3 separate regions of the Homo sapiens genome follow, and all the other regions are linked to region 3. The links come from fine-mapping of genetic effects on gene expression. A gene starts in region 3. Each other region holds a variant in brackets. All regions are shown on one strand. Distances are between the middles of the regions. Region 1 overlaps SHANK2 (SH3 and multiple ankyrin repeat domains 2). Region 2 holds the start of LOC105369373 (a long non-coding RNA gene). Region 3 holds the start of CTTN (cortactin).

What was found. PIP is the estimated chance that this variant, and not a neighbour inherited with it, causes the effect. A credible set is the group of variants that fine-mapping cannot tell apart.
Region 1: its variant is the best candidate, but not a certain one, in a credible set for the expression of CTTN in whole blood (INTERVAL, PIP 0.77).
Region 2: its variant is the best candidate, but not a certain one, in a credible set for the expression of CTTN in lung (TOPMed, PIP 0.70).

Annotation. Positions count from the first base shown.
Region 1 is chr11:70,499,039-70,507,211 of GRCh38, reverse strand. SHANK2 (SH3 and multiple ankyrin repeat domains 2) reads left to right here. Exons shown (of 26, transcript NM_012309.5): 18 at 4,281-4,416; 19 at 4,926-5,006; 20 at 5,281-5,289; 21 at 6,622-6,642. Among named protein-coding and RNA genes, the nearest start is that of CTTN, 100 kb to the right of the region's middle. RefSeq lists an enhancer at 1,211-1,710 and a silencer at 6,377-6,536. The variant T/C (reference allele first, on the strand shown) is at 3,541.
Region 2 is chr11:70,323,328-70,331,500 of GRCh38, reverse strand. It overlaps PPFIA1 (PPFI scaffold protein A1), which reads right to left. Exons shown (of 28, transcript NM_003626.5): 3 at 6,998-7,099; 4 at 6,490-6,654; 5 at 5,927-6,001; 6 at 5,138-5,239; 7 at 4,683-4,904; 8 at 1,182-1,328. It overlaps LOC105369373 (a long non-coding RNA gene), which reads left to right and starts at 4,247. Exons shown (of 2, transcript NR_188532.1): 1 at 4,247-4,401; 2 at 6,374-6,693. RefSeq lists a silencer at 1,993-2,129. The variant C/T (reference allele first, on the strand shown) is at 4,003.
Region 3 is chr11:70,394,065-70,402,237 of GRCh38, reverse strand. It overlaps CTTN (cortactin), which reads right to left and starts at 3,709. Exons shown (of 18, transcript NM_005231.4): 1 at 3,624-3,709. CTTN-DT (CTTN divergent transcript) reads left to right here and starts at 3,776. Exons shown (of 3, transcript NR_186321.1): 1 at 3,776-4,140. RefSeq lists enhancers at 1,201-1,495, 4,344-4,413 and silencers at 2,783-2,852, 3,434-3,943, 4,044-4,093, 5,191-5,379.

The DNA of each region.
Region 1 (8,173 bases), 100 kb before region 3:
TCAAGCTGAGAAGGTGACGTCAGGGCCCAGGAGGCTGGGGCGGGCGGGCACAGCAGCAGTCACAGCCTCAGCTAACAGCAGGGGAGGATGCCGCATGCAAGTGGGAGGCCCAACTCCCCAAGTGCGAGGGTTCTAATTTTTCAATGAAAACTGAAATTCTAGACTTTCTATGCAAAGGTCTTATACTCTTTAAATTGTGACAGCTAAGTTAAAACTGACTGAGGCACTGTGTGGGTGGGATTTGACCCTTGGTAATCGCTGGATGGGGACCAAAGGGAACATCCTAGGATGTGTGTGGATGGTTTGAGGCCCTGTTGGCACCACCTCCCTGCCCCCAAGTGCTTGCCAGGGCAGGAAGCCATGCTGTTTACTGAGGACACCCCGCTAGAGAGGCAGGTGTCCTGCCCACGGGCACCCAGCAAGCAGCAGGGCCCCCACAGGCTCCGGACCCAATAATATGCTGATTCTGGAGGGGTGCAGGCCCACCAGGACCAGGGCTCACCGGATACCATCCCTCCATGAAGCAGGAGGGAGGGCCCTCCAAGTGGAGCTGGGACTGCAGGGAAGCTCGTCCAAAGCAACTTTGTTTGGAAGTGGCTCATGACCCCGAAAGACCTGGGCGAGACAGATTCTGGACGTCAGAGGGGCATCAGATGCCCAACAACTGATTCCAAACCTAGCTCCACCCCTGCAAGCCCTGTATGCCTCTTTGTCATCAGCTTTCAGAGAAGGCCAAGTGATGTTTCCAGGGCCCATGGGAGCCTCATTTCCTCTGAGCTCTCCTGAGCAGGTCCTGCCATTTGCTGCAGTCTGCTGAGGGCAGCAGGTCTACGAGGGGTACAGGGGATGGAATCAGGAACTGGGGAGCCCTGATTAGGAGTTGGGTGGGAACAGCAGCTTCTGCAGACTCAGATATGAGACATCAAATCTGGGCAGCCAGCCTGGCCCTGTGCAGGAGCAGCTCTGGCTGGGGCAGCATGAGTGTGTGGAGGTGCCACCAGAACGTGCACCCAGGCTGTCGGCTACAGACAAGGAAGGTGCTGGGGCCGCCAAGGTCCTTGGCCCCGCAGCCAAGCTTCCTGAGAATCCCCCATGAGTGGCTCATTCCCCGAGAGGCCTTTCTTTGGTCCTTTGCCTCCCCTGCCCAGAAAAGAGTAATGTCTGTCTCTGACACTTCTGAGGAAAAGGGCCCTCCAGCCCCTTGACCCTTCCAAGGCACAGGAACAAACTGCTTCTCCCAAAGCGGCCAAGGGCCAGCTCTGGCCAAGATCACAGAAGGACAGCATCCAGCCACCACAAATGAACCACGGGAGATTCTGGAGGATGAGGATTCTAGGGAGTGAGCCCAAGGCCGTGATGGTTAGCAGGCTGCAGTCAGAGGCCACATCCCCAGCCCCTCCCTGCCTAAGTGGCCAGGCTGTTAAAGTCCCCATCAGCCCGACGAGCCCTCAGGAGGCCGCAACTTGAGCTTGGCTTCTCCAGTGACTGGCAGCCCATCCCCGTGCCAGTCTCGTACTCTCCCCAAGCATCAGATCCAGAGAATGCCCCACAGCGGGTGGCAGGAGCAAGCAGGCAGTAATATGCACTTTCTTGGTTGGAGCCCCCTCAAGGCCCGGCACTGGGGGCCCGCCCAGAGCAGGAAAGCTGGTCCCAGCCCATCTCAAGGTGGGGCCGAGTCCTCCCCTCGCTCCCCACAGCCTTGCAAGGGATGACCCCTGGGGATCTAGTGGCCAGGCAGCTGGGGGCTCCCTACTGCCAGGTCTTCTCACCAAGGCCTCACACATTGGCCTCGCGGCTCCTGAGCCTGGGCAGCCTGCCTCCTCCATCTCAGCTTGAGACCCCAGTGTCTCGGTGCCCCCCCACGTGTGTTTGGCACCTCATACTCACAGCTGCTCGGGTCAGATGCCTCATCTCTGCATCGGGCCTCAGCACTCCCTGGCCCATAACTTCACCCTGGCATCCAAGGCCCTGCTCTCAGGCCTTGGCCTTTTCTGCGCCCCCCTGCCTACCGCTTCCTTGCCCATTCCCACTCCATGACTCCGCCCACACTGCTCTTTCCTGGTGGGTCCAGGCCTCTGTTCAGTCTCCTTTTACTTGGTTCTGCCTTCTTAGGTGGTACTCAGCCACCTGAAGTTATGTGTTCACTTCTTTGTGTGTCGGCCAAAACTCCCTGATGAGGACGCAAACTTCCCACAGATGGAGGCAGAGACAGCTGAACTGCCTGTGCCTCATGGCTTTTAGTGGTACGGGGAACAGAAACACTGGAATGAGTGAATGAATGAATGAATGAGCAACAGCCACTACCCGGGTGTGCTCATGGGAGGGGAGAGAACCCGATAACGCGTGGCTGGTGTTCGGTTGCCTGTCTGTACCAGAGCAGCGAGGGTCCTGCAAGCTGAGGTCTGCCCTCCGAGAACTCCCGGTGCTGTCTTCCTCGATCCGGCTCCTTTACTTCCTAAATCCATCTGCTTTCCTAATTACATTCTGAGAACCTCAGTGAAAGGAACAGCCCCCAGGAGTCACCTTGCAAAGACCGCTGCCGCTGTAGGTGGGCCTCTCTCCCAAGGCCCCATTAGGATAGTCCTGCTCCCAAGACTCTATCTTCAGGGCAGTGCAGGGTGACCAGCTGTCCAGTGGACCCAGGACACTGGATACTCACTGCTGAAACCGGGTGGGTCTGAGTACATGGGAATGAGCCGGTCCCACAGCAGAGACTGCAGAGCAGCTGGCACGGGGACTGCCCTGGCCCCACTGAGTCCTCCCTGGGCTCCTCGCAGCCCTGCCTGGAGGACCTCTGCAGCCGTCTCGTAGGTGACCAAAACTGGCACATCCTGGGCCTGTCAACAGTATGGGGAGCCAGGCACTGGGCCTGTCAACAGTATGGTGAGCCAGGCAGTACCTGCTTCTATCCAGCTCTTACAGGGATGTTGGATTTGTGAAAATCCACCAAGCAGCACACAGGCTTTAAGTTTTCTGTTTGTGGGTATACCAGATGTTTAGTTTTTGAAGAATCTATAGCAGGAGGATATGCGTACAGCACAGTGTGGCTGGTGAGGGGCATGACGTCTTGGCTGTTGTTTACGATCAGGGTGCTTTTCTTTGTTCGAAGGTGGCGTGTGAAGCAGCTGTAAACTTCACCTTCTGGGGCTTCCCCCTCCCTGCTGCCACCTAGAGACAGCTGCCTCTGGGCTGCGCTCCCATTCAGGAGCTGCTGGGATGAAGGTGCCAGAGGCCCCCTGTGGAGCTCAGTTCCATGGGCAGGGGTGAGGCCGGGGCCTTTTCACAGCAACATTTGAAAACCACTAAGTGTTACTCCTGCAGTAGCCAGGGTGGGCAGTGTCAGCCCAGACGCCCACCCAGTTCCAGTCTCCATCACTCGGGTTTTCCTCTGGGAGTAGCGTGGGGCTGGGAGGCAGAGGCCAAGGCCATCTGCTGCTGAGCATTGCTCAGGGAGGTGAGAATAGCAGAGGGGCCAGGGGGATGGCACCCTGAGTCCGTTCCTACTTCCGTGTCAGGTGCATTTGCCATGGTGAGGACAAA[T/C]AGGGCAGGAGGTAACCGGCTCCTAAGAGTTCCTCAACTGCAGGGCAGTGGCCATAGCATGGCAGCCTTGGGGGTCCCCAGCCTGCCACTCACCGTCCCAGGAGCACTGGGGCAGCTAGTTGTACAGACCAGCACAGGGACAGGGCCCCCACTCTTGTAAGCACCCTGCTGGGCCAGGCTTTTCTGCCTTCCCAGGCCTCTGGAGCGGGAGAGCAGGGAGGGAGGGAGTGGGAGGAAAGGGGCTGCTTCAGTGTGATGTGCATTCCCAGAATACATGAGAAGCAATTAAGCGCCACGTTTCCTCCTCCTGTGAGGATGCAAAGCCTGGCACTGCAGCCCAGCCCTGGAACTCGCCTGTCAGGCTCTTCACATGCAGTCTCTTGGTGGCCCTGAAAATTGCCCCAGGCCTGTAAAAGTAAGCACCTAAGGATGCTCAGGTTAAATAGAAATCAGCCCTTCCTCTGCAGCAGCTGTGGAGGACTCAGCAGAGAGCTGCAGTGTCAGAGGAAGGCCTCCCCCAACCTCCTGAGCCACAGTTAAGTGACCTCCACAGTCACAGCAGCATTCATTCTGGTTTCCCCAAAAGCACCTTTGCTTCCAAAAAGATGACGGTCTCACTCCCTTTGCTTCCCTGCATTTGCCCCCTTTTTAGGAGCCCACATGTCTCTGCCTTGGGTGGGTGCCAACTGTCTTCCTCTCCGCTGGCTCTCACTGATGCCATCCTCTCCGCCTTCCCACAGGTTAACAATGAGAATGTTGTCAAAGTCGGCCACAGGCAGGTGGTGAACATGATCCGGCAGGGAGGGAATCACCTGGTCCTTAAGGTGGTCACGGTGACCAGGAATCTGGACCCCGACGACACCGCCAGGAAGAAAGGTACATGCCCCACATCGCCCAGCTCCAGCCTGGGGCCCTACTGGGGGGGGGGGGTGGGGGCGGGCAGGACAGCTGGGGGGCAGTGGGCCCTCTCTCCAGCTGATCCCACACTTCTGAGAGCCCAGGCACAGGGGTGAGGCTGGAATTTACCGCCAGAGCCCACGACAATGACTTGGGGCTCACACGCTGCCGGAATCATCCATGTCCCACCAGGAGTGCCCTTTTAGTCACTAGCAGGCGTCCCTTCCGCAGGCTTCCCACTCAGTGCCCTGTCCCCTCCCTCCCCCTGCCCAGGCCCACCCATGAGGGCCTGCACTGCAGTTCAGGGATATGGCAAGATCCTCCTGAGCACCTGTCCTTTCCCATCATAAGCACACCTGCACAATCCCTGACCACCGCAGCCAAACAGCCTGAGACCCACCTGCCAGCCACAGGGCCACTGCTAGCCTTATTCCCATATCTGGAAACATGGGCTGGGGTCTCACACCCATCTCTCCTCTGCCCTCCAGCTCCCCCGCCTCCAAAGCGGGCACCGACCACAGCCCTCACCCTGCGCTCCAAGTCCATGACCTCGGAGCTGGAGGAGCTCGGTAAGTCGCACACCCGGCCCAGCCCTGTACAGTCACCATGCCGGTCCCTGAGCTGCCCTTTGCAAAGCACCAGGCTGTGCATGACCCCACGCTTGCTCGCTACCCCCCTCCTGCCCCTGTACCCAGACGTGCATCAGGAAATGCCCCTGCATGCCCCGCAGCCCCATGTGTGCACCTCCCTCGGAGCCTCGCGGGGCGTTGTTGCTAGTCCTGCCTTTCCTCTTTTCTGTTTATCTAACATTGTTTTGTTTTGAATTTTTGGGCCTCTCACTAGTGGATAAAGGTAAGCAGCCCCACTGGGTCCCCAAAGCAGCTCCCCCTGCTGTCTAGGGCACCCCCACTGACATCCACCTCAGCCCAGGCCTCGGAGGCCTGTGTGAGCTGCTCCCCACGTGGCTCAGACCAGAAGGCTCCATCCTCCGGGGATCTGTGTGTAGATAGCGTGGGCTTGGCAGAGCAGTCTGGTCTGCACAGCAGGCTTAGGGAACGCCCGGCACCTTTGTGTAAGGTCTGCAAGCAACAGAGAGAGGCTCTGGCCCTCTGACTCCATCTTGTAGGCAGGGGAAGGGCGACTAGCAGCCACGTGGGCCATGCTGGCCATGCAGGATCCTGTTTGTTCCGGGGAGTCACCATGGAGCCAGGGACACCTTTGGAAAGAGGGTGGCTCTGAAACACACAGAGATGGCATGTAGGTGGAAACGCTTGCTCCACTGGAGCACAAATTGGAGCTGGTGAAGGCAGCTTACATGGGCGCAGAAACGAGCCCCCGCCCAAGGCCCACGGTCCAGTCCAGCTGGCCTGGGGGGTTGAGAGCCAAGCCCTGGCTGGTGCTCTCACTCACAGGCCCCGTCCTCCCTGCACTCTGGCACAGGCAGCTTTCCCGAGAGGAGTCTAGCAAGTGCTAAGTGCTGCCACAGCAGTGATGTCATCCTTCCTCGGCCCAGGGCGCTGAGGCCGGCCAGGCCGCTTCTCACGAGGTTCTGGGGCTAGAGTCTGAGGATGGGCATGAGGCCTCAGTCCAAAACAGCAGCCCTGCAGTGGCGCTGCCCCACCCACCCAGAACCAGTAGTGCCCCGCGTGCCCCAGCCTCACAGGCGACGGAGGAGGTGACCAGCCTCCAGGCCCTCTCCACAGAGGCCTGTCCTGGGGCTCCCCAGAGGGACAAGCCTAGCAGCTCTCATCTTTGCAAGGGGTGCTCCTGAGAGCTCAGCTCAGTCAAGAAACAACAGAATGAGGCAGGAAAGGCCACAGGTGCACTCTAAAGGCTGGCCCCGCCACCTCTGCTCATGTCTGCTCTGAGAACTCCTCCCTACTTTGGCAGGGTGCTGGTGGGACAAGGGGTGCTGAGGAAGAAGGAAAGCCCCTTTCCACTGCCAGGCAGTAGGTTAACGAGCAGGGCAGACAGGACAGAGTTGTGCGGGCAGCCAAGGTTTGGGGAAAGCCACTCCATGGATAGCGCAGCCTGCGTTCGCAGCGTTCCAGACAGCCCCTGCCTGCCGCCCCATTGCCGGCCCAGCCTGCTCCTGAGGCGCCCTGAGCTGACAAGGCCCGAGTGTAGGCTGCGGGCGGGCGCTGCATCCTGGTGGCTCATGGCGGTCCCCTTTCTGTTTGCAAGCCTCGGTCCGGAAGAAGAAGGGTAAGGGAGGCCCAGTGTCTGTCTCAGCCCCCTGCCCATCACCCCCCTGTGGAACAGAAACATCCTTTGTGATGCCGTGAAGTCTCAAATGTGTCGCAAAGCCTTGTTGGCTTCTCCTGCTGGGTCCTGCCCGAGGAGCCCTGCCGCCCTGGAGCACATTCATCTGTCTGTTCTTTCTGCTTGGCTTCTGTCTGTGATTCCCCAGCGTGTCCTGTGTTTCTTCCCTGACCTGTGTTCACATCGTCATGACCGTGAAGCTGGCCGGACCCCTGTTTGGTCTCAGCTGGGGCTGCCTGGATGGGGGGTTGCAGATGAGCAGAGCCTCTGGCTGCATTCCTGACCCTCAGGACCCCTTTGTGGTGGGCAGGAACTGCCTCCCTTTAAGGCCCGGAAATCACCCATTCCCCAAGAGGCTGCCCTGTGCCCTGTGGGGCACTAGAAGGAGAAGGGAGCAGTGTGAGCCCTTTGGCTACACCTCCCCACCCAGGGCTGGTGTGGAGTGGGAGACTGGCAGTCACTGTGGCTGTGGGCAGCCGGACCGCAGGCCCCAGATAGACTCAGGTTCCCCCTTTCACAGCAGCAAGCACATCGGGGGGTATTGCTCGCCTGCTGCTGGACACAGCTCCCCCAACAATTAAAAGCAGCACTCCCAGCTTTTAATTAATCCCTTGGAGTTGGGAGGAGCCTAGCACCTGGCCCTAAGGCACATCTTAACTCTGTCCCAATCATGTTAGATGAGATTGGGTGAGGTGGGCACAGAACCACCACTGTCCCGACCTGTGTCATCCCAGCGGCCTCTCTGCAGCAGCCCCGGGCTTGCACCAGCATCCTACAGCTGCCCAGAAAACTCCCAGCGGGCTTTCTAGGCCCCACTGCTGCGCCGAGGATGTGGTGGACACCCGGGGTACAGAATACCCTTCTTTCTATGTCGTGCAATTACGTTTGTGTGTGAACACCCCTTCAATCCAAGGCCAAACCCCAGCTCACGGGAATGGCCCTCTATTCATCACCTAACTGAGGAAGATGCCCCACCATGGCTGCCAGGGACCCAGTTGCCAGAACAGCGTGGGACAACAGAAGTCCCTTGTCAGGGAGAACAGTTCGGGACTCAGGTGGCTGAGCCACCGTGGGCGCCTGTGGCCTGCTGGGACCTGGCCCCATCCACACCACCCTCCTCCCCCAGGGTGGCATCAGAAGATCCACCTCCCGTCTGAGCAAGAGAAACTGGCTACAAATTTGAGCTTCCAGAGCCTCAACCCCAGATATAACAGGGGGCAAGGGTGTGGGCAGGAAGACCCCAAAGGGACCAGCAGCCGTGGCCCAGCCTGGTCACACTGGGGGATCCAGCTGGGGACTGAAGACACCGAGCGTTGCTGACAGCCCCTGCCTCTAGGGCCATGAGGGCATCCCATGGCGCACATGCGAAGTGCGGGGCACATAGTGGATGCACGGCAAATGCTCCAGGCCCCTCGTGCTGCCTCCACCTGTCTCTGGGAGGACTGGCCTCGCCTCGGAAAAAGCACTCGTCACA
Region 2 (8,173 bases), 71 kb after region 3:
GCCTGGGTAAGGTTTTCTTGCTGCCAGGAGTACATGCCCACTTTCCTGGTCTTGGTTTCAATGTGCAAAACACCTCTTGTCAAAGTGTTTGCTTTTCCTAAATAACTTTTAAGAAGCTTTTTTTTTGTTTGTTTAAAGACAGAGTCTTGCTCTGTCACCCAGGCTGGAATACAGTGATACTCGTAATTACAAGAATAAGTATGGTTTACGAAACCACAGGAGACCCAATTTCTTACTACAGACTTCACTGCCTTTTTTTTTTTTTTGAGACGGAGTCTAGCTGTGTCACCCAGGCTGGAGTGCAGTGGCACAATCTCGGCTCACTGCAACCTCCGCCTCTTGGGTTCAAGCGATTCTCCTGCCTCAGCCTCCTGAGTAGCAGCTGGGATTACAGATGCGCGCCACCAAGCCCAGCTAATTTTTGTATTTTTAGTAGAGACGCAGTTTCACCATGTTGGTCAGGCTGGTCTCAAATGCCTGACCTCATGATCCACCTGCCTCGGCCTCCCAAAGTGCTGGGATTACAGGTGTGAGCCACCGCGCCTGGCCGCATTTTTTATTTTAGAGACGGGGTCTCGTTCTGTGGCCCAGGCTGGAGTCCAGTGGCACAATCATAGCACAATGAAGCCTTGAACTCCAGGGCTCAAGTCATCCTCCCTCCTTAGCCTCCTGAGTAGCTAGGGCTAAAGGCACATGCCACCATGCCCGGCTAATTTATTAATTTTCTGTAGAGACAGGCTGTTCTCACATTCCTGGGCTCAAGCGATCTTCCCACCTCAGCCTCCCGAAGTGTTAGAATGACAGGCATGAGCCACCGCATCCGACCAAGACTTCATTTGTCATACTATTCATGTATCATAGTGCTCCCACTTAGTTACAAATAGCCAATTGCCTTGAAGTTCTTTGCCACTCTCTGCTCCTTTGGTAAAAATGCTAACAAGCAATAGATTAACTTTCAATTACAACAAAAGAAAAAACTGAGGACAAAATTGGTTAAATCAAATCCTACGTAATCAAAACCTCTAAACTGAAGGAACTCCCACATGTCTTGAACATAATATTCTAAGGTCATAAAAACTTGATATTTGGACTTGATTTCCAACATGAAAGTGAGAGAAAAAGGGTCTTTAACTTCATTAATAATTAACTAAAGCCAGACAAAGGTCGATAAAATCCATTACCTGTCGATGCATAGAATCTTTATTTGCAATTTCATTTTCAAGTTTATCATTGAGGTCATGCACAGATGTGGCTTCACGCTGTGCAGCGAGGTAGCGTTTTTCAAGAGTAGTGATTCTCTCTTCCATATCTTCCTTTTGGGCCATGGCCTAAATTAGGTATTTCAGAGGGGACAAAAAAGTAGGTAATTAACGATTACACATTAAGATACTTAAGAGAGAAAAAAACTGAAGTAAATCCCAAATTTCCAATCAAATTAAAAATTAGCATCCTCAGGCCAGATACAGCAGCTCACTCCTATAATCACAGCACTTTGGGAGGCTAAGGCGGGAGGATGGCTTCAGGCAAGGAGTTCAAGACCTTGTCTCTACAAAAATATTTTATTTTGTTTTTTGAGTCAGAGTCTCCCTCTATCACCTAGGATGGAATGCTGTGGTGCAATCAAGGCTCACCACAGCCTTGACTTCCCAGGCTCAAGGGATCCTTCCACCTCAATCTTCCCAGTAGCTGGGACTACAAGCGCACACTCCTATATCCAACTAATTTTTAATTTTTTGTAGAAATAGAGGTCTTACTATATCGCCCAGGCTGGTCTTGAGTTTCCTGGGCTCAAGAGATCCTCCTTGGCCTTCCTTTGGCCTCCCAAAGTGTTAGGATTACAGGCGTGAGCCAGTGTCCCTGGCCAAAAACATTTTAAAGAAACAAAAATTAGCCACGCATGGTGGCACGCCCCTGTAGTCCCAGGTACTTGGGAGTCTGAGACAGGAGGATTGCTCGAGTCCAGCAGTTCAAGGCTGCAGTGAGCTATGATGGCGCCACTGCACTCCAGCCTGGGTAACAGAGAGAGATCCTGTCTCAAAAATAAATAAATAAATAATAATGTCCTCAAAATTAAATTGATGAAGATGTCAATTTTCTCAAATGTGAATGAAAATGTAACTACCTCAAATACCATAAATATTCACCTATACGATTAACAAAGACTTGTCTCTCTTAATACTATGTCTGGCCACTCAGTTGACCAAGCTTTCCTGTTTCTACATAATATTATAAAAATATATACACTCAAATATCTAAATATTTTTCAAGGAGGTGAAAGTGTCCTCAAAGAAGACGCAGTCTACGTCTGCCTCACGCTACAAATGGTCTCACACAGGACAGGGTGCGGCCTCTCTCAGTGGACACAGTAGTGAGATACAAGTCTCACTTTCTAGGATAAGGGTTGGATGAACTCTCATACAATTACAAGACTCAAGCATATTGACAAATGGAAACAGAAGTACCAGTTTAATTTAATTGGATGCAACTACCTGAAGTCTACAAGATGATTACTATACAGTTTCAAACACTTAAGGCTAGGACCAGAACTTTTTGCTTGAGAAATACCTGTCCTCCACCCCCAGAATTCACTATTTTCAAGTTGTTCCCTATTTATAAAATGACTAAAGTTAGCAAAGTCTAAATATTACAAGTGATAGGGGAAAAAAGCTCAACATCACCGATTAGACAAATGCCAATCAAAACCACAATGAGACAGCATCTCACACCAGTCAGAATGGCTATTGTGGAAAAGTCAATCAGTAACAGATGCTGGTGAGGTTGTGGAGAAAAAGGAATGTTTTCCTGCTCTTGGTGGGAGGGTAAATTAGTTCAACCATCGTGGAAGACAGTGTGGAGATTCCTCAAAGACCTAAAGATGGAAATACCAACCCAGAAATCCCATTACGGGGTATATACCCAAAGGAATATAAATCGTTGTATTATAAAGACACACGCACACGTATGTTCACTGCAGCACTATTCACAACAGCAAAGACAAGGAATCAACCTAAATGCCCATCAATGATAGACTCCATAAAGAAAATGTGGTACGTATACACCATGGAATACTATGCAGCCATAAAACAGAATGAGATCATGTCCTTTGCAGAGACATGGATGGAGCTGGCGGCCATTATCTTTAGCAAACACAGAAACAGAAAAACAAAATACCTCATGTTCTCACTTATAAGTGGGAGCTAACTGATGAGAACACAGGGACAGACAGAGGGGAACAACACACACTGGGGCCTATCAAAGGGTGGAGGGTGGAGGATAGGAGGAAGAAGAGGATCAGGAAAAATAACTAGGCTTGGTACCTGGGTGATGAAATAATTTGTAAAACAAACCGCCAGGACACAAGTTTACTTATGTAACAGACCTACACGTGTACCCCAAACTTAAAAGTTAAAATAAAAAATTAAAAAATAAAAGTGATAGGTCTTAAAAGAATTTCAAAATTCTCTGCATATTAATCTCTGCCACATAATCTCCTGCTGTAGCCAAAGAATAGAACCTTAGGTGACATACTACATGCAAATGTTCTTCCTGTGGTGAATTCCTACATGAAATTACTCAACGTCAAACTACCAAACTGAAAAGCAGACATTCAACGGTTGAGGCGCCTGACAAGGGACAAAGCGCAGGTTAGAAAGTGACAGGAAGGGCACCTGAGAAAGCACTCAGCCTCACTGTTTCATGATCAAATAGTTTCTCTCTTTTTTTTTTTTGAGACGGAGTCTCGCTCTGCCGCCCAGGCTGGAGTGCAGTGTCCCGATCTCGGCTTACTGAAAGCTCTGCCTCCTGGGCTCACGCCATTCTCCTGCCTCAGCCTCCCGAGTAGCTGGGACTACAGGCGCCCGCCACCACGCCTGGCTAATTTTTTTGTATTTTTTAGTAGAGACGGGGTTTCACCGTGTTAGCCAGGATGGTCTCGATCTCCTGACCTCGTGATCCGCCCGCCTAAGCCTCCCAAAGTGCTGGGATTACAGGCGTGAGCCACCA[C/T]GCCCGGCATTCATGATCAAATAGTTTCTCACAGTTATAATGGCAGAAATATTTGTCAGCAATGAGTATATTGTGACATATTTTTGCTATACGATCCTGATGACCCATGTAGAAGCAAATTCCACTCTTGATTGTTTGACCATTAATATTCAACGCCACAAATTCCTTGAAGGAGCAGGTCAGAAAATGAGAAGACCGCCAGCAACGCCCCCTCCCACAGTTAAGAGACTATACTCACATTGCCCTACGTGAGCTAGCACAGCCAGTATCAATATCTGCTTGCTAAGTATGTGTGCAACAGAAGGCAATCTGAACATAAGAACAAATTAAGACAGCCTAGAAATTGCACAGATGAAGAATCTACAAACAAGGACATTAAAGAATATTAAAGCAGCACAGGTAGGAGAGGCCAGTGTGGCGTCCACTTCATGGCCATGTCAGTCAGTGGGACTAGTTCTCTACTTTGAAGAGCTCAGGGACAGGAGATTTCACAACAAAAATGGGGAGGTAGCTTATGGCAGTTTCACAGCACTCTCTCTTTTTCAATATAACTTATACAATAATCCAAAGGTTGAAAGTAATTGGGAGAGTAAGAGACAAACAGAGAAAAAAAATCATTTAACTAAAACGTCCCAAACATACAACTTCATGACAAGACTGTAGTTTTTGTTATTGCTCACTTCACGGACATCTCGTTGCAATTTTGTGTTCATTTCTTCAGATTTGATGAGATCTTTTCTAGCCGTGTCCAGATCCTCTTCCAGTTCTGTCACATGACTGGAAAGGGAAGCCAGGCGTTCTTTCATTTGGCTCTGTTCCCTTGACTGCTTACTTATGATTTCTTGGAGCTCAATTACTTTAGCAAGGTCTTCCTCGTGGCTTAAAGAACCATCAGAAGATCTCTGATAGGGGGAAAAAAAAATCCTTAAATACCCTTGTTTGGTGAGCTATAAAATAAAAATACTTCCAGGAAATAGCTAAAATCAAAACTGACTTATGCAATCTGTTGGATTACACAACTTTCATGACCACTTCAGCTCTAAGCCGGTACTTTAGCAACTGTTTTCCACATAACCCGACACATACTGTGAACAAATGAAATCAAACAGAATAAAGACAAAGCCTACAGACTTGCCTTTCCACTCGTGCTTGGTGTATTTTCTTGTTCATGGTTTATGTCCAGCACTCCATCTGTTAGAGTTTTTTTCTGATTATTCTGTTCTTTAAGAATCATTAGCTGAAAGCAAAAAATTGAATATGAGTGTAAAATACCTTACATAAGAGAAATAAGTAAAGATAGCAAAACTCCTTTTGGAAAAACACAACTAAAAACTGCTTAACATAGTATAAAAGAGAAAGCATATGGCAATGCTACCCAATCCGAAAATAACCAGATCATTGAAGATGGAATTTATTATCCACTGGCCAGACGAGTCCTTAGGTAACCATCATTTTGTAGTCCTTAAAATGACTCAGATAGGCTGGTCCTCAATTGGGAAGATAAGTAACATGTGATATGTACAACTACAGTCCTTATACTTCTTTTACTTTTTTTTTTTTTTTTTGGAGACAGAGTCTTGCTCTGTCACCCAGGCTGGAGTGCAATGGTGCAATCTCAGCTCATTGCAACCTCCACCTCCTGGGCTCAAGCAATTCTCATGTCTCAGCCTCCCGAGCAGCTGGGACTAAAGGAACATGCCACAACTCCTGGCTAATTTTTGTATTTTTAGTAGAAATGGGGTTTCACCATGTTGGTCAGGCTGGTCTTGGAACTCCTGACCTCAGGTGATCCGCCCGCCTCGGTCTCCCAAAGTGCTGGGATGACAGGTGTGAGCCACCACGTCTGGCCTTATGCTGCTTTTAATAATTAAAGGATAAAAATAACCCCCCCCCAATTCAACTCATGATGAAGTCTCAAGCTTACCTCTTTGTGTGTGGCACCTAATTCCTCTTCTAACAAACTACATCTTTCAAGTGCTACTCGTAATCGCTCTCTCACCTGAAAATAAAAGGGGTTGAGTTTGTGTGTGTGTGTGTATACTGTTTATTTTATTCTTAATATATAGTTAAGTGTAATATATACACTTAATGTATATATTAGTGTAATATAACATAATAAAATACCATTAATGTCTGTCATTGATCTTACTGTCAAGAAAACTTGTTAATGGCTCTAAATTAAGTTTCAGAAAAATAAATCTTCCCCCGAAATATCAGGTTGTTGCAAAAGTAATTGCAGGTTTTGCCCACAATTACTTTTGCAACAACCTAATACTACCCAATTTGTAACAGCAAATCAATATACATTAGTAATTTTAAGACATTTAAGCCAATTAGTACTTTTTAAACCTACAAAACCCTGTCTTCTTAGAGAAGTTATTTCCAAGAATTCAAGAAGCTTCAAAAAACAAAAGTTACACCAACACTTGTGAAGCTGGCCTAATACACAGCATGTGCACAAACCAAGACTTATGTGGCTGATGGCACCTTTTCATCCAGAGCTTTGTGGTGTTCAAATAAGGACTTCAGTGCTTTCAGCACTTCCACTTCGCTGGACACGCCTGCTGGAGACTGCGCTTGTCTCTTCACCACGGTCATCCTAAGAGACCGCTCATGCCTGGAGACAAGGCATTCCAAATGCTCTAACAGCAGCTGAAATAAAAGGCCAAAATAAAGACTTGTTAAACAGCATTTTTAATTTCATGATTGAATCTGGGGCAAATAACTCCTTTACAGTCTCATACTAAAATGAAGTCCCTTCAATTCCGCAGAAAAACAAATTCCTCTCAATTGTATTAAAATATCATAAATTCTCATCACAAATTTCAAGCCATTAATGTGTGATCATGCTGACTAATCACAGTCTGCTCAGTGGGAAAAGGTATGAAAAGTATTTCAGGCCAGACAGAGTGGGTCGTCCTTTCGTTTTGACACACCGCCCCTCCTCCTGACAGTGGCTCCAGGGGCAGGCAGTGAACAGAAAGGTCACACTCACCCTGGTGTTATTCCTTTCTGCTTTCAGTTCAGCAATTTCTTCTTCCCTTTCAAGGAGCTGTTCCCTGCATACATTGAGTTCTTTAGTAAGTGCTGCGAACTCCTAGAAAATCACAAAACAAAATTAAATAAATAAGAAAGACCCCCTAAAGAAAGCCTTTCATCAAGGCTCCACAGTCTTCACACAAAGGCAACCTCATTACAAGTTATGGGGAAGGGATCTCAGTGATCCTCCAGAGAAAGAGGGCATCAATGGACCACACAGATTCCCTAACAAATCACAACACTGACAGACCATCTGACTTCCCTCTATCCCTGCACCCTGGGACAAGGACAGCAGGGAAAGAAGGGGAATCCAAGTCCACCTTCTCAGCAGCCAGAGAAGTCCAAAACATTTTCCTGAACAGGATCCTGACATGAACTGAATGAAGACATTTTAAATGACTCACAGACATGTGATCTAGAGTTGCTGGAGAGAGAGGAAAGATGGCCTAGAAGGCCACCACCCCTGTCCTAGCCTCCTTTTCTTCCTTTTTCTTTCTGAGACAGGGTCTCATTGTGTCACCCAGGCTAGAGTGCAATGGTGTGACCATGGCTCACTGCAGTTTTGACCTCCAGAGCTCAAGTGACCCTCCCAAGTAGCTGAGACCACAGGCTTGAGCCACCGTGCCCAGCCTCTCTTCTAAAGTAATATTTCTTCTGCAAGAATCCCTACTGTGGGTAATCAACTTCTAGCATGACAGCACAAGAAGCTCCACTGACCTGCTTGCTCCCAAGGAAAACAGGTGAACATTGTAAGAAAACAACTGTTCTGAGACTCTGGAGATCGTTCTAAGGGTTCACAGCAAACAACTGAAAATTCAGTAAGAAAGGCCAGAGTCTGTTGTATTTGAACCAAGACTGCTCCCTGCCTCCCCTTTCCAGGTCAGTGAGGCAGCGACTCTGTTCCAGACTGCTGCAGCTGATAATGTAGTGCCCTCTCCCCCAGTTCCACCCCACCCCAGCTACGTGGTGCTGATGCTGCATCCTGGCTAGTGGAGTCATGGGCAAAGTGGGCCTTCCTACCTCTGTCCAGCCTCCATTCTGGAATGGAGGCTCAACTTTGAGTGTGGCAGGCTGAGAATACTGGGGGTCCTGATCAGCTGTGCCCTGGCTCTGTAAGACGGTAGCTGCAGGG
Region 3 (8,173 bases):
CAAATCAAGATTGCACAAACGTGAAGTAATCTTGCTGTCTAGACAGAGTGAAAAATTCCTCTACACAATAACTTTTTTTTTCTTTTTCAGACAGTCTTGCTCTGTTGCCTAGGTTGGAGTGCAACAGCGCGATCTCGGCTCACTGCAACCTCTGTCTCCCAGGTTCAAGTGATTTTCCTGCCTCAGCTTCCCGAGTAGCTGGGATTACAGGCATGCGCCATCACACCCAGCTAATTTTTTGTATTTTTAGTAGAGATGGGGTTTCATTATGTTGGTCCAGGCTGATCTCCAACTCCTGGCCTCAAGTGATTTGCCAGCCTCAGCCTCTCAAAGTGCTGGGATTACAGGCACGAACCACCGCGCCTAAAAGCCCCCCACCAGCCTTTTTTTTCTTTTTTTTTTCTGAGACAGGGTCTTGCACTGTGGCCCAGGCTAGAGTGCAGAGGCACAATCTCAGCTCACTGCAACCTCTGTGTCCCAGGTTCAGGTGATCCTCCCACCTCAGCCTCCCGAGTAGCTAGGACTACAGGAATGCACCACCACACCAAGCTGATTTTTCTCTCTCTTTTTTTTTTTGTTTTTTTTTGTTTGAGACGAAGTCTCACTCTGTTGCCCAGGCTGGAGTGCAATGGTGTGATCTCAGCTCACCGCAACCTCTGCCTCCTGGGTTCAAGCGATTCTCCTGCCTCACCCTCCTGAGTAGCTGGGACTACAGGCACCTGTCACTACACCCAGCTAATTTTTCTTTTTCTTTTTTCTTTTGAGATGGAGTCTCAGTCTTTTGCCCAGGCTGGAGTGCAATAGTGTGATCTCGGCTCACTGCAACCTCCACTTCGCAGGTTCAAGCGATTCTGGTGCCTCAGCCTCCTGAGTGGCTGGGACTACAGGCATATACCACCACGCCCGGCTAATTTTTTGTATTTTTTTTTTTAGTAGAGACGGTGTTTCACTGTGTTAGCCAGGATGGTGTCAATCTCCTGACCTCGTGATCTGCCCACCTCAGCCTCCCAAAGTGCTGGGATTACAGGTGTGAGCCACCATACCCGGCCAATTTTTCTATTTTTAACAGAGATGGGGTTTCCCCATGTTGCCTAGGCTGATCTCGAAACTCCTGGGCTCAAGCAATCCACCTGCCCTTAGCCTCCCAAAGTGCTGAGATTACAGGTGTGAGCCACCGAGCCTGGCAGAAGAATGTTTTAAATGACAGGACAGAACCATCCGTCCACCATCAGCTTTCCATTAGCCTCAGCATCTATGGCAGAGCAGGAGGAGAAAGGAAACAGACACTTGCGTAGCCAAAATCACCATCACAGGCACACTCCCTACACCACACTTACTCAAGGGAAACCCCGCCCCCAACATTTACTCCGTTTACTCAAAGCAGTGCGTGAGCAGATGGGGTGGGCCTGGGCCACAGTGAAAGCCAAGCCTGCTCCTGGAGCACAGTCCCCTGCTCTTGGCTGGCCCAGGCCATGGGAATACTGCAACACAAGGCAGCAACCAGCGCTCACAGCAATTCACACTCTCAGGACACCTTTTCTGAGCACCTACTGCGTGGCACAGACTGAAGATCTGAATTGCCGATTATGTGTGCTGTCATTTTAAAAGTGTTTTAAAAACAAGTCCATCAAAATGCTACAATTAAAAGTCAGCTTTAGCTGGGCCTGCAGTCCCAGCTACTTGGGAGGCTGAGGTGGGAGGATCGCTTAAGGCCAGCAGTTCAAGGTTGCAGTGTGCTAGATGGCACCTGTGAAGAGCCTCTGCACTCCAGCCTGGGTGACAGGGTCTCGCTCTGTCACCCAGGCTGGAGTACAGTGGTGCGATCGAGCTCAATGCAGCCTCCAACTCCTGGGCTTGAGATCCTCTGCCTCAGCGCCCCAAGTAGCTAGGACAACAGGTGCAAGCCAACATGCCCAGCGAATTTCTTTTTTTGTAGACACAAGGTCTCCCTGTGTTGCCCAGGCTAGTCTGGAACTCCTGGCCTCAAACGATCCTCTCACCTTGACCTCCCAAAGTGCAGGGATTACAGGTGTGAGCCACCGCACCCCTGCCCCAGGTCAAAAGAAATTTCTTTTCAGTAAGATATAGCAGAAGGTTAGCTTCTAGTTCTAGGGGACCTAATATCAAAACAACCCTGCCTCCCCAACTTTTTATTGAGTCCCACTTAAAAGACTCTTCCTTGTTCCTTGAGTATCTGGCGAATACTTCTCTAACCAGAGGAGAAACAGGACTGACTCAGTGCTCTGGAGCCAGTGACTCACCCACACGGTCAAACACGTGAATGGAGACAGGGGCAGGCGGCCAGCCCCTCCTGCGCCACGGCCTTGGGCCCGGCCGGGCTTGAGGGCTGGATCATGCCTGAAGGACCTAGTGGGTGAAGTCCCCCCGACAGAGCCTGCGCAGCCAAGTCAACACTGAGCCCAAAGGGAGCGCATGGGATTCCAGGGAGCGCTCACCGGATGCCTCCGGAGCTTCCTTCAGCAGAAAATGAATTCCTCCCCAAGGGGCCCCAAACGTCCACAGATTCCAGCGGGAGGAAGCCCTGTCCCTTCTCACCCAAGGCCTTCCAGCTTCAGGGATCAGGCATCCCTTAGACTATCCAGGTGATGGAAACGTAACAGAAAGCCCCAAAGCACCGTTCTGGTGATTTTAAACACACCCCGAAGGAGGGACGGTTCCAAATTTAGAGCCTCACGACTAGCTGCAGCCGCGCCTCGCTGCCTCCACTGACCTGATTGCAAAACCTCCGCTCAGGTGCAGGCCGGGCGGATCCCCAGCTGCTCCGCCACGTCCCACAGCGAGCCCCTCAAAGTCGCGCACCCCAACCGCCTTGACCCCGCGGACCCCATCCCTTTTCCCTGCGCCTGGATCCCTTCCCCTGGAGCCCCAATCCCCTCCCCTCGGACCCTATACCTTTCCTCCGAGCCCCGACCCCTTCCCCTCGAACCCCAATTCCCTTCCCTCGGACCCCATCCCAGTAGCTCTGCGCCTGGACCCCTTCCCGTCAGACCCCAATCTCCTCCCCTCGGACCTCATCCCTTTCCCTCTGCACCCAGACACCTCCCTCTCAGACCCCTCGCCCTTTCCTTGAGACCCCCCACACCCACCTTCCTTGGCCCCTCGAACCCCGGCCCCCTCCGCTCAGACCCCCGAACCCCACAGGCCCAGCCCCTCTCCCTCGGGCCCTAATACCCTCCCCCTCGGAGCCCATCCCCCTCTCCTATTCCCTCGGACCCAAGACCCCTCCCAGCCTGGCCCCTCTCCTGCCCTGGAGCCCCCCGGCGCCCAGGGACCCTCCCCTCAGAGCTGATACCCCAATTTGGCCCCTTTCTAACCTTCCTCCGCGGACCCCAGCCCCAAGCCCTCCGTGCCCCCTTGCCCCCTGCCCGGCCTCCTTGGGCCCAGACCCGTCCTCGTGGCCCTCGCGGACCCCCGGCCCTCGCCCTGCCCCGCCCCAGGCCGGGAAAGCCTCGCCACTCTGCCCCGGCCCCCGAAACCGCAAGCGGAAGAGCGGTGAGACCGCTGCGGCCGCCGCTTCCTTCCCCTTTCGCGGCCAGGCGACGCCACAGGAGGGAAGAAGCAGAGCCCGGCCTGCACCCCGGGCGGACGCCGCGCTCGCTCACCGCCGCCTGGGGTCGGTCCGGCCCGGGTCGGCCCTGGATTCCGCCGCGCCAGCCGCTCCCAGGCACCAGGCTCTACTTCCGGTTCCGAGGGCGGGGGCGGGGCCGCATCCGGGTCCCCGCGCGACCCCGCCCCCTGCCCCGCCTCCTCCCGCGTCTTGGCCCGCAAGAGTCCCGGGGGTCCGCCCGCAGCTGGCTAAGCGCTAGCCCGGCCTGTGGCGAGTCTGCAGAGCTCGCCCGGAAGTAGCGTTGCGCGCGCAGAGGATGGGCGCTGAGCAGCACACAGCCCGCGGCGGGGTCTCAGGATCCGCGGCGCTGCCCGGGGCCGGGGGAAGGAAGCCAGCCGAGGAGACGCACGTGCCCTGAGTCCGGGAGCGGGGAGCCTCTTCATCTCTCCATCCTCCCTCCGCGCGCGCCCTCAGCCGTCCTCGTCCGCTCACCATGCACCTCCCCTCCAAGAAAGGGCCACATGCGTGCCAGGGACGCGAGCCCCGGCCACAGGGACATAGCAGCCTAGAAGGTGAGTCAAGCGTTAAACCACATGGGTACTCACCTGGGAAATGAGATAAATGCCAAGAAGTGAGAGTTTCATAACATCGTATTGGGGAGACGGTAGGACCTGAACCCCTGGGAGACCAGAGGTTTCTTTGGGCGATTCACATGTTAGCCAAGATGTGAAGGCCCTATAAGAGTAAACAAGGTAAGGAGGGAAGAATTTTCCAGGCAGGCCAACAGCAGGTTCCAACAGCAGGGCCAACAGAGGTCCCAAGGCAGGAACGGTCTTGCAGCAGGGGAACTGGAGGAGGCTCAGCTCAGCATGGTAGAGGGCTAGTGGTGCAGCGGAGCTGTGGTGTGAGAGGGGCCAGGTCATGCAGAGGCCGATAGAGCACAGCGAAGACCTCGGTCTTTATTCTGGGAGACACGGGAAGTCCTCGGAGGAAGTTAAGCTGATAAGAGACATCATGAAGTTTGGGCCAGGCGCAGTGGCCCACGCCTGTAATCATAACACTTTGGGAGGCTGACATGGGAGGATCGCCTAAGGCCAGGAGTTCGAGACCAGCCTGGTCAGCATAGTGAGACCCTCGCCCCCGCCCGCCATCGCTAAATAAATAAATAAGACATAATGAAGTTTGAATTGTAATGAGATCACTCTGGCTGCTGTGTGGAAGATGGATGGGAGAAGGGCCAGGTAGAGCCTAATGTAGCCAATTCGGGCAGACCGCTGGTGGCAGGTAAGATGGGGAGAAGTGGATAGATGCAAGAGGCATTTAGAAAGCTAAACTGTCAGATGTGAGGATGAATTGGAAGTGCGGGTGGCGGAAGGAAATGTCAGGTGTTGACCATTTTTTTAAAGGTAAAATCATGACCTTCATACACATATAAAATGAACACGTCAAATATTTTATTTAACTCGATAATGAATACATCATAAGTTGTTACAAATTGTTTAAAGAATTTGGCCAGATGCAGTGCCTCGCGCCTGTAATCCCAACACTTTGGGAGGCCAAGGCAGGAGGATTGCTGGAGGTCAGGAATTTGAGACCAGCCTGGGCAGCATGGCAAGACCCTGTCTCTACCAAAAAAAAAAAATTTTTTTTAAGAAAAAAATTAGCCAGGCATGGTGACGTTTACCTGTGGTCCCAGCTATTCTGGAGGCTGAGGCAAAAGGACCGCTCCGGCACGGGCAACAGAAACCCTGTGTCAAAAAAAAAAAAAACGGAAGACGAATGCTGAAATGAATTTGCAAAAACTGCTCTATCTCTAGTGCAAAGGTCAATTGCATTTAACTGGACACAGCTAATTTGCATTTTCTGTGCACAAGGATTGTTGGCCAGGCTTGTAATACCAGCACTTTGAGCGGCAAGGCCAGAGGATTGCTTGAGCCCAGGAGTTCAAGACCAGCCTGGGCAATATAGACCCCATCTCTGAAAAAAAAAATTTTTTTTTTTACATTGCTGACTGTTTTTTTTTGTTTGTTTGTTTAATCTTTAGAGACAGGGGCTGGAGTGCAGTGGTGCAATCAAGGCTCACTGCAGCCTCGATCTCCTGGGCTCAAGTGATCCTCCCACCTCAGCCTCCCAAGTAGCTGTAGCTGGAACTACAGGCACGTGCCACCACACTCAGCTAATTTTTTTTTTTTTGAGATGGAGTTCCCCTCTTGTTGCCCAGGCTGGAGTGCAATGGCGCCATCTCAGCTCACTGCAACCTCTGCCTCTCGGGTTCAAGCAATTCTCCTGCCTCAGCCTCCCGAGTAGCTGGGATTACAGGCGTGCGTCACTTTGCCTGGCTAATTTTGTATTTTCAGTAGAGACAGGGTTTCTCCATGTTGGTCAGGCTGGTCTCGAACTCCCGACCTCAGGTGATCCTCCCGCCTCGGCCTCCCAAAGTGCTGGGATTACAGGCGTGAGCCACCATGCCCGGCCTCTAATTTTTTAATATTTTTGTAGATACTGGGTCCTGCTGTGTTGCTAATGCTGGTCTCGAACTCCTGTGCTCAAGTGACCCTCCTGCACTGGGATTACATGTGTGAGCCACCACATTGCCAGGCCACATTGCTGCCTGTTTTTTAAAGGTTAATTTCTGCCTCTACAGAGGTATGAAATCATCTAGTCAAAAAAGCAGGCATAGCCGGTGGTGTCCATCTCAGAGGGAGCCCTGTGACTGTATTGATCCAGCACAAACCCCTCCTCTCAAGTCCCTCACTGTGTCACACCTTTTGCCATAAGAGGTCATAGTCATAGGTGCTGAGGATTAGGCTGTGGACATATCTTTGGGCGCCCACGGAAATGTTCTTATTTCTATTAAAATTGGAAAAATGAACTTTTAGGTTGAAGAAAATGTATTTTATTCAAGAAAACATGTAAAGAAAATATAGCAGCCAGGCGCGGTGGCTCATGCCTGTAATCCCAGCACTTTGGGAGGCCAAGGCAGGTGGATCACCTGAGGTCAGGAGTTCAAGACCAGCCTGGCCAACATGGTGAAACCCCGTCTCTAAAATTAAAGTACAAAAATTAGCTGGGCTAATTTTACAGAGAAGGAAAGACAAAGCTCACTGCAGACTTTTCAGCAGGAGGGCAGCGTTCGTGGCTTAGAAAGACCAGTCTGCTGCCGGTGAAGAGCAGGGTGCTTCAGAGTGGCTCCCAGAGAGAAAGGGGCAGCACACTCTTCCACATGCCCATTGTGCTCCCCAGGAGAATGTGTGGCAGAGACTGAGGCTGGCCACAGGAATTACACATACAGTGTAAAATTTGCAAAGCAAGAAGTATAGCTGTGCTCAAAAATAGGTCGAAGCCGGGCGCCGTGGCTCATGCCTATAATCCCGGCACTTTGGGAGGCCAAGGCAGACGGATTTCTTGAGGTTAGGAATTTGAGACCAGCCTGGCCAGCATGGTGAAGCCCCATCTCTACTAAAATTCAAAAAATAAAAACAAAAACAAAAACAAAACTGGTGGCTGGGCGTGGTTGCTCACGCCTGTAATCCCAGCACTTTGGGAGGCCGATGCAGGTGGATCACTTGAGGTCAGGAGTCCGAGACTATCCTGACCAACCTGGTGAAACCCCGTCTCTAATAAAAATACAAAAATAAGCCAGGCATGGTGGCAGGCGCCTGTAATCCCAGCTACTTGGGAGGCTGAGGCAGGATAATCGCTCAAACCCGGGAGGTGAAGGTTGCAGTGAGCTGAGATCGCGCCATTGCACTCCAGCCTGGGAGACACAGCGGGACTCTATCAAAAAAACAAAACAAAACAAAACAAAAGTGATATCTCTGTGAGCCAGAAATGAAGAGAAATGCAAAGTGCTGAGTGGGCCTGCAACTGCAAAGCTGCTGGGCCTGGGTCACCCACGCTTGTAAAAGAAGCACGCAGCCAGGGGCGCACCAGTGGTCCCAGCTACTTGGGGAGGCCGAGGTGGGAGGAATCACTTGAGCCCAGGAGTGCAAGACCAGCTGGAGCAACATGGTGTGAACCTGTCTCAAAAAAATAAAAATAAAGAAAAATTTTAAAAACCCATGCAGCCAAAGAGGGATGTCCAGACAGCCTTATGTCCAGGACCTGAGCAAACCAGTCCCTGACTTAGAGTGCAGATGGGACCTGGGGCATTTGCACCACCACGCAGGGCTGTAGGACTCAATACAACACGTGTGACGGAGATGTAGCTGTCCACCCAGCGCCCCCACCCTCCTCGGTACTAAGTGGACATGTGGGTGTCCAGCTCTACTACATTTCCCAGCTTCCCTTGGAGTTGGGAGCTGCCATGTGGCCAGGTTCTCGCCCATGGAACATGAGGGGAGGTGACATGCATGGCTTCTGAGCCTGGACCATCATTCCTCCCCGGGGCTGCCTCCTACCGTGGACCAGCTTCCTAGGCTGCTGCAACACATTATGACAGACTCAGTGCCTCAAAACAATGCAAATATATGCTCTTCAGCTCTGGAAGCCAGAGTCTGAAATCAGTTTCATGGGCTAAAGTCAAGGTGTCAGTGGGGCTTGTTCCTTTTGGAGACTCTAGGGGAGGAACCATCTGTGGCCTTTCTAGCTTCTTGCATCCCTCAG